3 separate regions of the Homo sapiens genome follow, and regions 1 and 2 are each reported to be linked to region 3. Evidence: microRNA targets listed by miRTarBase, many of them from high-throughput screens and not tested one by one. Region 3 holds a microRNA gene; each other region holds the end of a gene's coding sequence.
What was found. Region 3 holds the annotated microRNA hsa-miR-5190 (CCAGUGACUGAGCUGGAGCCA, at 1,187-1,207, shown strand). A microRNA usually pairs through its seed, bases 2 to 8, with sites in the 3' UTR of a target mRNA and lowers its output. Matches are read on the target gene's strand: a 7mer-m8 pairs with bases 2 to 8, a 7mer-A1 pairs with bases 2 to 7 and ends in A, and an 8mer does both.

Region 1 (3,000 bases), not on the chromosome of region 3:
TGCCTTTGGCTGTTCTGTGACCTTTGAAGCCAGTCTCAGTGGTTTAGGCAGCTTTGCAGTTCTAACTCTAGCTAGAGGCCAGGCTGTGTGCAGAGCTAAAGCACAAATGAGCAGTACATCAGCATGGGCAGAGAAAATACAGGACTCCAGATGGGAAGGTTTTAAGAGTCACACTGGCATGGAAGGCTTATCTGCCATTCTATTTATAGCCTGAAATGATTCTGGCCTACCCTGTCCTGTCTGTATGATCTAAAAACCAGCCTTTTCCCCAGAAGGCTCTGAGCACATCCAGAAGTGATAACCTGACCCTCCACACCAAAGACACCCTGGTGCTGCTGCTGGTGAGACTGGTGTCCAAGGCAGGGCCCAGCAGAAACTGCAGCCTGCTGTCTACCAAAGGAGGTACCCGAGTTGGGTACTTTAAAAAAAAAAAAAACCTGCCCTTACCCCTCTCCCTAATGGGATTTTTTTTACCTGTTCCTGGGCCCATTACAGAGCCTCTGAAGTTTGCAGTATGCTTTCAAATGAAATAATATACTTCCATTGATTCAGGAAGCAGATTTTTTGAGTGCCTATATGTGAGACAGTGTGCTGGTTGAAGGCCTGATGCTGTTATTCCAGGAGACTGCAGGCCCTTGATGCCAGGACTCTCTCTACTAAGGCCAGTTCAGGTCTGGGAAAGGGAGCTGGCCTATTGCCCACCACCTGTTGTCAGTAGGTTAGGAGCTGTTGACTCAGGATGAGGAAGTATGGTCTTTAAAAAAAACAAAATATATTTTAGATTTCTCCCCTAAAGTTAGTTAGAGAAAAAGGTCTATTCTTCAGCAGATCACTGTGGCCCCTCTTGGAGCTGGGTGTTTTCAAATTTTCTTGAAAAGTGAGTTGTGTCACAGAATGTGGATAGTGAGATTTGCTTCTGGGCCTGTGGTTGGACGCCCACAGCTTCCTTTGGAGGGGCAAGAAGTTGGCCTCTCGGTTGACATTCCAGAGAAATGGCCAGACTTGCCCCTACCCTTTTGCCCCTGGTGTAGCTGCCTCACATGAGGTTATTGCAAGAGTTCCCCTTGCAATACCCTTTGTGCCCTCAAGAATTAAAAGCCTCTATGATCCAGAGTTGCTATGCACCAAATTTTGATGCCTTCTAAATACCTTGATGCCTGTAGCACTAGAAATGCTTTCCTATTTAAAATAAACATTAAATTTTAAAATAGAGCTTTGTATACTATGTAAGCAGTTTTATATCAGCTTTGTAAAAGCTTTGGTGTTAAGAGTCAATATTTTTTGGCTTTGTAGATAAAGACTTAAATTTTTGTGCAACATAGTGGTGTTAAAGCACACATCCATTGGACTATGCAAATCAATTTCTACTAGCAGCACTGAGCAACTGGGCACGTGCTAGTACGCACCCCCTCCTACTCTAACTGTGCTAGCTCTTGGGTTGAGGAATGGAATGGGTAGCCTTCTGCTTACTGGAGATGCACAGAGAAACATGGCTGAAAACAGCTTTAAAAAGAACATGTCTTTGGGTTCATGTGTGGTGCTGCTGCCCGGGTGTAAACTATCCCCACCCAGGGCCAGCCATTATCACCAGACCTCTTCTGGGCCTGGCTGTGAAGCCCTGTTTTTGGTATTCAGAATGGATCTTTAAGGCTCAGATGGGCTCAAATTGAAACCTTGTGTTTTATAAAATGGATGTTTAGTAAAGGAACTGGTTCTCAGTTATGTTTACAGCACTTGGAATTGTGTGTTCTTGTACATTTTGTATTTTAAAACCTTTTATGGGAGTGCAGTGCTCCTTACACAAATACAAAGGGAAGAAGAGCCAGCAGTTGAGGCTCCTCAGTTTTAGTGCTGAAATAATAAACAGTGACAGGTCAACAGTATCCTTAATCTGTCTGAGTGTTCCTCCGCCTGGGGTTGGTGTGGAGCCCCTCACTTTGGGGCAAAGTTAAGGGTCCTGTGTCTTTTAAAAAGTCCATTTGGTCAATAACTTTTCATTTAAGGAAGAGAAGATCGAGTTCCAAATTGCTTCCGAGGCTTCAGTTCTGTACCATTTAATGCGTGCAAAGGACATTCCATGGTGTCTGCTGGGTTCAGGGCAACTGGCTTTCCCAAGGCATACAAGAAAAGTTGGCAGAAAGTCCTCCCCTTTAAAATTCAAGCCTGAAGGTTTTGTGTGGGGGCCTACTGCCCCCTAATGTCTTCTGGTGATACTGCAGCACAGTCCATCAAAATAGTTTGTGGTTTTGCCATCTGTTACTCCTTATGCCCACCTGGAGAGGGGCTAGCATCTTTAGGTGGGACCACCCCTGGCACAACATGGTCTCTGAGGTCCAGATACTCTGAGGGTAGGGGCTGGCTCTCTCTGCCTCCCTATCCCCTACAAGAGGGACAGGGAGAGGTAGAACATTGGGATCTTTACTCAGAGGCTCAGATGGACCCTTGATTCTCCCAGGAGTCATACATTGAAGGTACCAGAGCTTCCATTTTATAAAAGAAAGCAAGCCTGCCGTGGACCTGTCAGCCCCACGATATCTGTCGGCATGGGCCACAGCCAGGACAGACTTAAGGGCTCTCCAGGTGCCAGTCAAGATGCCTGGCTCAGGCCATCAGGAGCTGGTTAGCCCCATTCCACCCCCAGCCCTGCATGCAGGGTCCAGCCATTGTCTTTGGGGGAAACAGGCAGAATAAGTGGAGGATGGAGCTGGGGCTTGGGCTCCTCTAGGTACCTTCTGAGAGCTTTGACAAGCCAGAAAGAAGCTACCAGGTTGAGGGTGCTGGTCTTCTGGACTCAGGAGAGACATGTTCGCCGAGGATATCAGCTGGCTCTTACCTCCTGGCTTTCTCTCCTACAAACACACCCATTCCTTGGGGGCTTGTAACACAGTGCGAGGTGGGTCACCAACAGGCATCAGACTGGTGTAGTCATCAGCGGGTAGCTACAGAAGGGACACAGATTTAGGGCAGAGAGCTCAGCCAGACCCGCCAGGCCCTCCGGCC
Region 2 (3,351 bases), not on the chromosome of region 3:
AGACCATCATCATCGGCGTGCGCAAGGGCGGCACGCGCGCACTGCTGGAGATGCTCAGCCTGCACCCCGACGTGGCGGCCGCGGAGAACGAGGTCCACTTCTTCGACTGGGAGGAGCATTACAGCCACGGCTTGGGCTGGTACCTCAGCCAGATGCCCTTCTCCTGGCCACACCAGCTCACAGTGGAGAAGACCCCCGCGTATTTCACGTCGCCCAAAGTGCCTGAGCGAGTCTACAGCATGAACCCGTCCATCCGGCTGCTGCTCATCCTGCGAGACCCGTCGGAGCGCGTGCTATCTGACTACACCCAAGTGTTCTACAACCACATGCAGAAGCACAAGCCCTACCCGTCCATCGAGGAGTTCCTGGTGCGCGATGGCAGGCTCAATGTGGACTACAAGGCCCTCAACCGCAGCCTCTACCACGTGCACATGCAGAACTGGCTGCGCTTTTTCCCGCTGCGCCACATCCACATTGTGGACGGCGACCGCCTCATCAGGGACCCCTTCCCTGAGATCCAAAAGGTCGAGAGGTTCCTAAAGCTGTCGCCGCAGATCAATGCTTCGAACTTCTACTTTAACAAAACCAAGGGCTTTTACTGCCTGCGGGACAGCGGCCGGGACCGCTGCTTACATGAGTCCAAAGGCCGGGCGCACCCCCAAGTCGATCCCAAACTACTCAATAAACTGCACGAATATTTTCATGAGCCAAATAAGAAGTTCTTCGAGCTTGTTGGCAGAACATTTGACTGGCACTGATTTGCAATAAGCTAAGCTCAGAAACTTTCCTACTGTAAGTTCTGGTGTACATCTGAGGGGAAAAAGAATTTTAAAAAAGCATTTAAGGTATAATTTATTTGTAAAATCCATAAAGTACTTCTGTACAGTATTAGATTCACAATTGCCATATATACTAGTTATATTTTTCTACTTGTTAAATGGAGGGCATTTTGTATTGTTTTTCATGGTTGTTAACATTGTGTAATATGTCTCTATATGAAGGAACTAAACTATTTCACTGAAAAAAAAAAAAAGATTTTTTCTGGAGACGCTATGTTTTTTTGAATATAATTAACTTGCCCCCAACTCAAAATAGCTGTCTGTGTTGCAATCATTGCAAAATCTAAATTCTTTTGTTACTTAAAAAAACATGTTTTTCATGGCTATTACAATCCTCTCTCTCCCCTCTCCTTTCTGCATTGCTCTTTTTAATTTTTAATGTCTCATTGTGATCATCAGATTTATTTTTACTTGGATTGTAAGATTTATCTCCTCGGCGATTCCTTGTCATTTTTGGAGGTCACAGTTTTACTCATTCCCATGTGTAAACTTCAAGTAAACAAAGCAATATTCAGGATGGAGAAGCAGTTAGTGACTGGCTAGAGGTCTCTTGGGATCCATCTTGACCTCAAAGAATATTTGCACATGCTTCTGATCTCAGCAGTTATAATAAAGAGGATTAAACCCTTGGCCTTCAGAATGATCTTGGACCTGGATACTTTGCCCCAGGTGGCAGCTGGCCTCCAGAAAGCCAATTAGAATAGAAAAGAGAAACTGCGAAATCTATGCGTGTCTTCATCCTGTCGGTTCTGTGAAAGGCTGACTAAAAGGGTAGTAGTCTTTTGCTTAGTCTGAAAGTCTGCTTACTTCCTGAAAGACACATTGGCATTATAGACATATATTCCATATGCACTGAGACATAAATATGTGTATGTTTCAAAATCAACTCTAAATTTGGAGTCCTGAATGTGAAAGAAAAAGTAAGTTCCCAAGTGTTGAAGTTAAAAAGAGAAAAGGGCAGAGTTGAAGGTAGCACCTAAGAGAACCACTGTACCTGCCCCCAGAGGAGTGGCTGGAGTTCAGTTTTACTTCTGCCCCTGAGCAGCCAGCTTGTTGGAGATGGTCACATAAACCCTTCTTATCCTCAGTTTTTTCATGCATTCTTCATGCAGTCAGCCTTTTACAGAATTAAACCCATTGGATTTTAATAAAAATAAAACATTCATTACAGTAAAAGAGAAAATACAAACAAGCAAAATAAACCGGCTTCCTGACATGGTTTATACCGCAGGAAAATGACAGAAATGGACGTTATTAATCATCTCCTACACTTAAGAACTCATTGAAATTTCTCCAAGCAACCCCAGGATGCAGATATTATTATGGAAATTTCAAAGAGGAGGAATTAGGCCCAGAGAACATGAGAAACTTGCCCAAGGTCACATTGACTATAAACTCAGGCTTAGAGGCTACTCAGAGCCAAAGCACAGGTTATTTATGTATTTAGTTTTTACCCAACTCTTTCTGAACTCAAAAGGAAAAGCCCAGACTCAGAGCCAGTTCTTCCTGACCTGACTTAACATTTCTTCCCAGGTGCCAAATATCTTCCATCCTAAGAGGTGTGTCCCAGATACAGGAAGGGCAAGAAGAAGCCTGCATTTTTCTCAGCAGTGTTATCAGGGAAGTGAGTCACCTTGGTACGTTTCAGCAGCTCCAGCCTGACCTGACCTTAGCATGGCCTATGCCCCACCCCATATCATGAACAGAGAGCAGAGAGGATGCCTTCCTCTTTAGAATCCATTGAAGTTGTCATTAAGCCATCATCTCCCCCAGAGGAAGTAGCAGAAATATTTACAGCAGGCCCCTGGTGGACATGGTACTTTTCAATAGGCAGAGAGCCTCCCTCTGCAGCACATCGTTGGATCTTGCTTTTACCATACTCCTTGAAGAGCTGAAGAAATAAGAGGGCCCAGCAAGGTTAAGTCAAGTTTCCAAGCCTGTTCAGGAATATGGTGACTGAAAGGAAACTGCAATGAGAGTCTCTGACTGAAGAAGATGCTCTTTGCAAACTGCCTGTAAATTCCTGTCCCCTGACAGGGATGGTCTGGTAGAAGCATGAACTGTGGATGCAAGAGGCAGCGGGGAGGAGTGGAGGAAGACAGGACCAGCACATGGAATATAATCTAGCTGCTGGGACTGGCATAGTCGATGGAGGCGGTGGTCCAGTGTAAAATGATCAGTGAATGTAAATTCAATATGTTTTCATTTGGGGGTGCAGAGTCGTGGCTAAAGGAATGTTCAAATGAGTCTACCATGAGCAAGGGATCAGAGGTCCTAGTGGCACTATCTGTTCATTCATTTTTGGTACAACCCCAGCCAGTCATTGAGAAGGTACACTGTGTAAGAAACCATCACTCCAGACTTACCCAAGGTATTTATTGCTAGATCTCACCAAGCACTGTCAAATTCAAAGGAGGCCCTGTAGTAGACCCTGGGCTGTCCTTACAGGGCCAAAATGCAGTGACTCAGGAGCCTAATAGCACCCGGTCCCTCCAAAACATGCCTTCTACCA
Region 3 (3,351 bases):
CCATGTGAAAAGGACTTGACTTGCCATTGCTGGCTTTCCAGATGATGAAGGGGCCTCAAGCCAAGGAATGTGGGCAGCTTCTAGAAGATGGAAAAGGCAAACAAATATTCTCCCCTAGAGCTCTGGGAAGGAACACAGCTCTGCCACCTCCTTGATTTTCACCCAGTGAAATTAGTTTTGGATTCCCAACCTGTAGAACTGTAAAGTAACAAATTTGTGTTTTAAGGCCAGGTGTGGTGGCTCACGCCTGTAATCTCAGCACTTTGGTTTTGGAAGGCCGAGGTGGGAGAATCATTTGAGGCCAGGAGTTCGAAACCAGCTTGGGCAACATAGTGAGACTCCATCTCTACACCAAAAAAAAAAAAAAAAAAAAAAAAAAAAAAAAGCCAGGCATGGTAGGTTATGCTTGTGGTGCCAGCTACTCCGGAGGCTGAGGCAGGAGGATCACTTGAGCCTAGGAGCTTGAGGTTACAGTGAGCTATGATTGTGCCACTGCACTCCAGCCTGGTAACAGACTGAGACTTAGTCTGAAAAAGAAAGAAAAATTAAAAAATAACATTTGGTGTTTTTTTTTTCTTTTTGTTTTTGTTTTCCTGAGATGGAGTCTTACTCTGTCGCCCAGGCTGGAGTGCAGTGTGTGATCTCAGCTCACTGCAACCTCCACCTCCTGGATTCAAGCCATTCTCTTGCCTCAGTCTCCCAAGTAGCTGGAATTATAGGTGCCCGCAACCACGCCCGGCTCATTTTTGTATTTTTTGTAGAGATGGGGTTTCACCATGTTGGCCAGGCTGGTCTCAAACTCCTGGCCTCAGGTAATCTGCCCACCTCAGCCTCCCAAAGTGCTGGGATTACAGCTGTGAGCCACCGCACCCGGTCAAATTCGGTGTTTTAAGCCACTGAGTTTGTATAGCTTGTTATAGCAGCAATAGGGAAGAGATACATATGGCTTTGTCTATAGAAAGATATTGCTTAAATAAAAAGAAGAAAACCCTTCCAGGTCTACATTTTCTCAGGCAGTGCTTGCGCTTTAAGGAGCACGTGCAGGATATTTACATCAGCAGCAAGTATATGAATCGTAGCCTAGTCTCATCGTTAGAGGTGCATAAACTCAAGGTAAGCATACCCTAAGTTTCCGCTCAAGGTCATACCCTGGCTCCAGCCCTGTCACATGGTTAATGTTCCACAGCCAGTGACTGAGCTGGAGCCAGGGCCACTGCCCCCACGTCGTCACGCCATGGTCATTGTCATTTCACTGCAGTTTCTCCAGCTTCCTTTTGAAGAGGAACACAAAGGAGAGGTGCTTTGCAAGGATACAGTATATTATAAGAATAGGGACATGTTTGAAACTAGTAGTTAATGAACATTATTTTCCTAAATTCATAGCTTTTATTTTGTTTTTTTTAAGAGACAGGGCCTCACTCTCTTGCCTAGGCTTGAGTGCAGTGGCGCTATCACAATTCACTGCATCTTTGAACTTCTGGGCTCAAGGGATCCTTCTGTCTCAGCCTCCTGAGTAGCTGGAACTACAGGCACACGCCACCATGCCTGGCTAATTTTTGTGTTTTTTGTAGAGATGGGGTCTCACCGTTTTGCCCAGGCTGAGCTGGAACTCCGGGCACAAGCAGTCCTCCTGCCTCAGCCTCCCAAAGTGCTGGGATTACAGGCATGAGCCATGCACCCGTCCTTAACTGATAGTTTTAGAGCAGTCCATTAGAGTGGACCCATGTCATCTGACGAAGCCATGTGTCTGTTTTGTATTTTCTAAGAGATTTGGTGCTGAGTAAAGAAAAAGAAAATTCTTCATATCTGATGAGAAGGTAGTGCTGTTGAGAGAGACCAAAAAAGGACAATTAGTGATGAGGGTATTTAAGGCAGACAGTTCATACCTCCTGAGTTTTTGGAACATGTGTCTCTCTTTGGTAAAATATTTTGGGGATAATCCCTATTATATGTGTATTTAATTATTTTAATATTATATACATATACTATTATAAACTTCCTAAGATAAACACAAAATTATAGATTTTGCTGAAGAGCAAAATAAAAATAAAATTGTTCTCCCCTTTTCTTCCAACACCAAATGAATCAGCCCACTGGGGTGTAGTAGGCAGCTCTGCCTGGAACTGCCTGCCATGCCGCCCTCTGTGTGCCTGGAACAGCCTGCCATGCTGCCGTCTGCATGGCCGGGGCCCTTCTGCAGCCCCCACTGCACCAACCTTTGTCCGCCTTTATTGTTGGTGAACACAGTGCCCACCTCACCATGCTGGGGTGGCCTGGCTTGCTGTCTCTTGAGTACCGTGGGAACTGAGGCGGGCTGGCCTTGTCTCCCCAGCGCCTGCTCACAGAAGGTGCCCCATGATGTCTGTCGTGCAGATGAATGTGTCCACGCGTGCTGGGCTAGTACAGAAGATCGGTAGGCAGGGGTCTTCGTGGCCAGGGCCTGAGGAGGACCGATAGCCTTGGGGACTGCATGGGTTTTGAGAGTCTGGGGGAACCAGGGGGAAGTAGGAGGACATAGTAAACAAAGGTCAAGAAGAGCGAGGAAGACGTGGGGATGGGGACACGTACCTGACTGAGGAAAATGGATTCTAGGAACACAAACGTCATTGAAGAAGGAGAGTGTGTGTTACTGGTTGAGGGTGTCCTGGTCCTTGGCATCTTGAACAAATAATCAGACAAAACACACAAACAAAGCAAGGAAAGAATAAAGCAACAAAAGCAGAGATTTATTGAAAACGAAAGTACACTCCACAGGGTGGTAGCATGCCCTAGCAAGCGGCTCCTGAGCCCGGTTACAGAATTTTCTCCGCTTTAAAGACTCTCTAGCGGTTTCCCATTGGTTACTTGGTGTACACCCTATGTAAATTAACTAGTGGCCTTTGATCAGTCTGATTGGTTGCAGGAAGGGGCCAATCAGAGGCTGAAGCAAAGTTACAAAGTTACACCCTATGCAAATGTCTGATTGGTTGCAGAAAGTGACCAATCAGAGGCTAAAGTGAAGTTACAAAGTTATACTCCTATGCAAGACTTGGCCCCTGACCAGCCTGATTGGTTGTGGGAGGGGTCCAGTCAGAGGTACTTTCAATTTTTCATCTGCCACACAGAAAAAGTGGGAGGGGGCAGGGTTGCAAGGGAGTAGCCTCTGGTCCTTGTGTTACTTGGGCATGGAAAGTTGGGGTTTTCCTTTTGATTTAGTTCTAGGAAGTCGGTGTGAATCGGCCTTAGGTTCCCTTCCTCCAGATCCTATTCTCCTGCCTCATGGGGTCACTGCTTGCCTGGGTGGATGAGCTGGAGCTTCATTCTGTGAAAGCAGTGGGCTGGCTTCAGATCCCGTGACAGCTGCAAGCACAG

Region 1: miRTarBase lists ESRP2 as a target of hsa-miR-5190. Seed matches in the 3' UTR shown: 7mer-m8 at 1,865-1,871.
Region 2: miRTarBase lists HS3ST1 as a target of hsa-miR-5190. Seed matches in the 3' UTR shown: 7mer-A1 at 1,015-1,021.

Annotation. Positions count from the first base shown.
Region 1 is chr16:68,227,377-68,230,376 of GRCh38, forward strand. It overlaps ESRP2 (epithelial splicing regulatory protein 2), which reads right to left. Exons shown (of 15, transcript NM_024939.3): 15 at 1,657-2,939. The coding sequence ends at 2,850. It overlaps NFATC3 (nuclear factor of activated T cells 3), which reads left to right. Exons shown (of 10, transcript NM_173165.3): 10 at 1-1,883. Among named protein-coding and RNA genes, the nearest start is that of MIR6773, 4.6 kb to the right of the region's middle. RefSeq lists an enhancer at 61-110.
Region 2 is chr4:11,396,489-11,399,839 of GRCh38, reverse strand. HS3ST1 (heparan sulfate-glucosamine 3-sulfotransferase 1) reads left to right here. Exons shown (of 2, transcript NM_005114.4): 2 at 1-3,351. The coding sequence ends at 758. Among named protein-coding and RNA genes, the nearest start is that of MIR572, 29 kb to the right of the region's middle. RefSeq lists an enhancer at 1,856-3,055.
Region 3 is chr18:13,458,807-13,462,157 of GRCh38, forward strand. It overlaps MIR5190 (microRNA 5190), which reads left to right and starts at 1,141; the gene lies at 1,141-1,220. The region is part of intron 4 of LDLRAD4 (low density lipoprotein receptor class A domain containing 4); the gene reads left to right. RefSeq lists an enhancer at 2,804-3,098.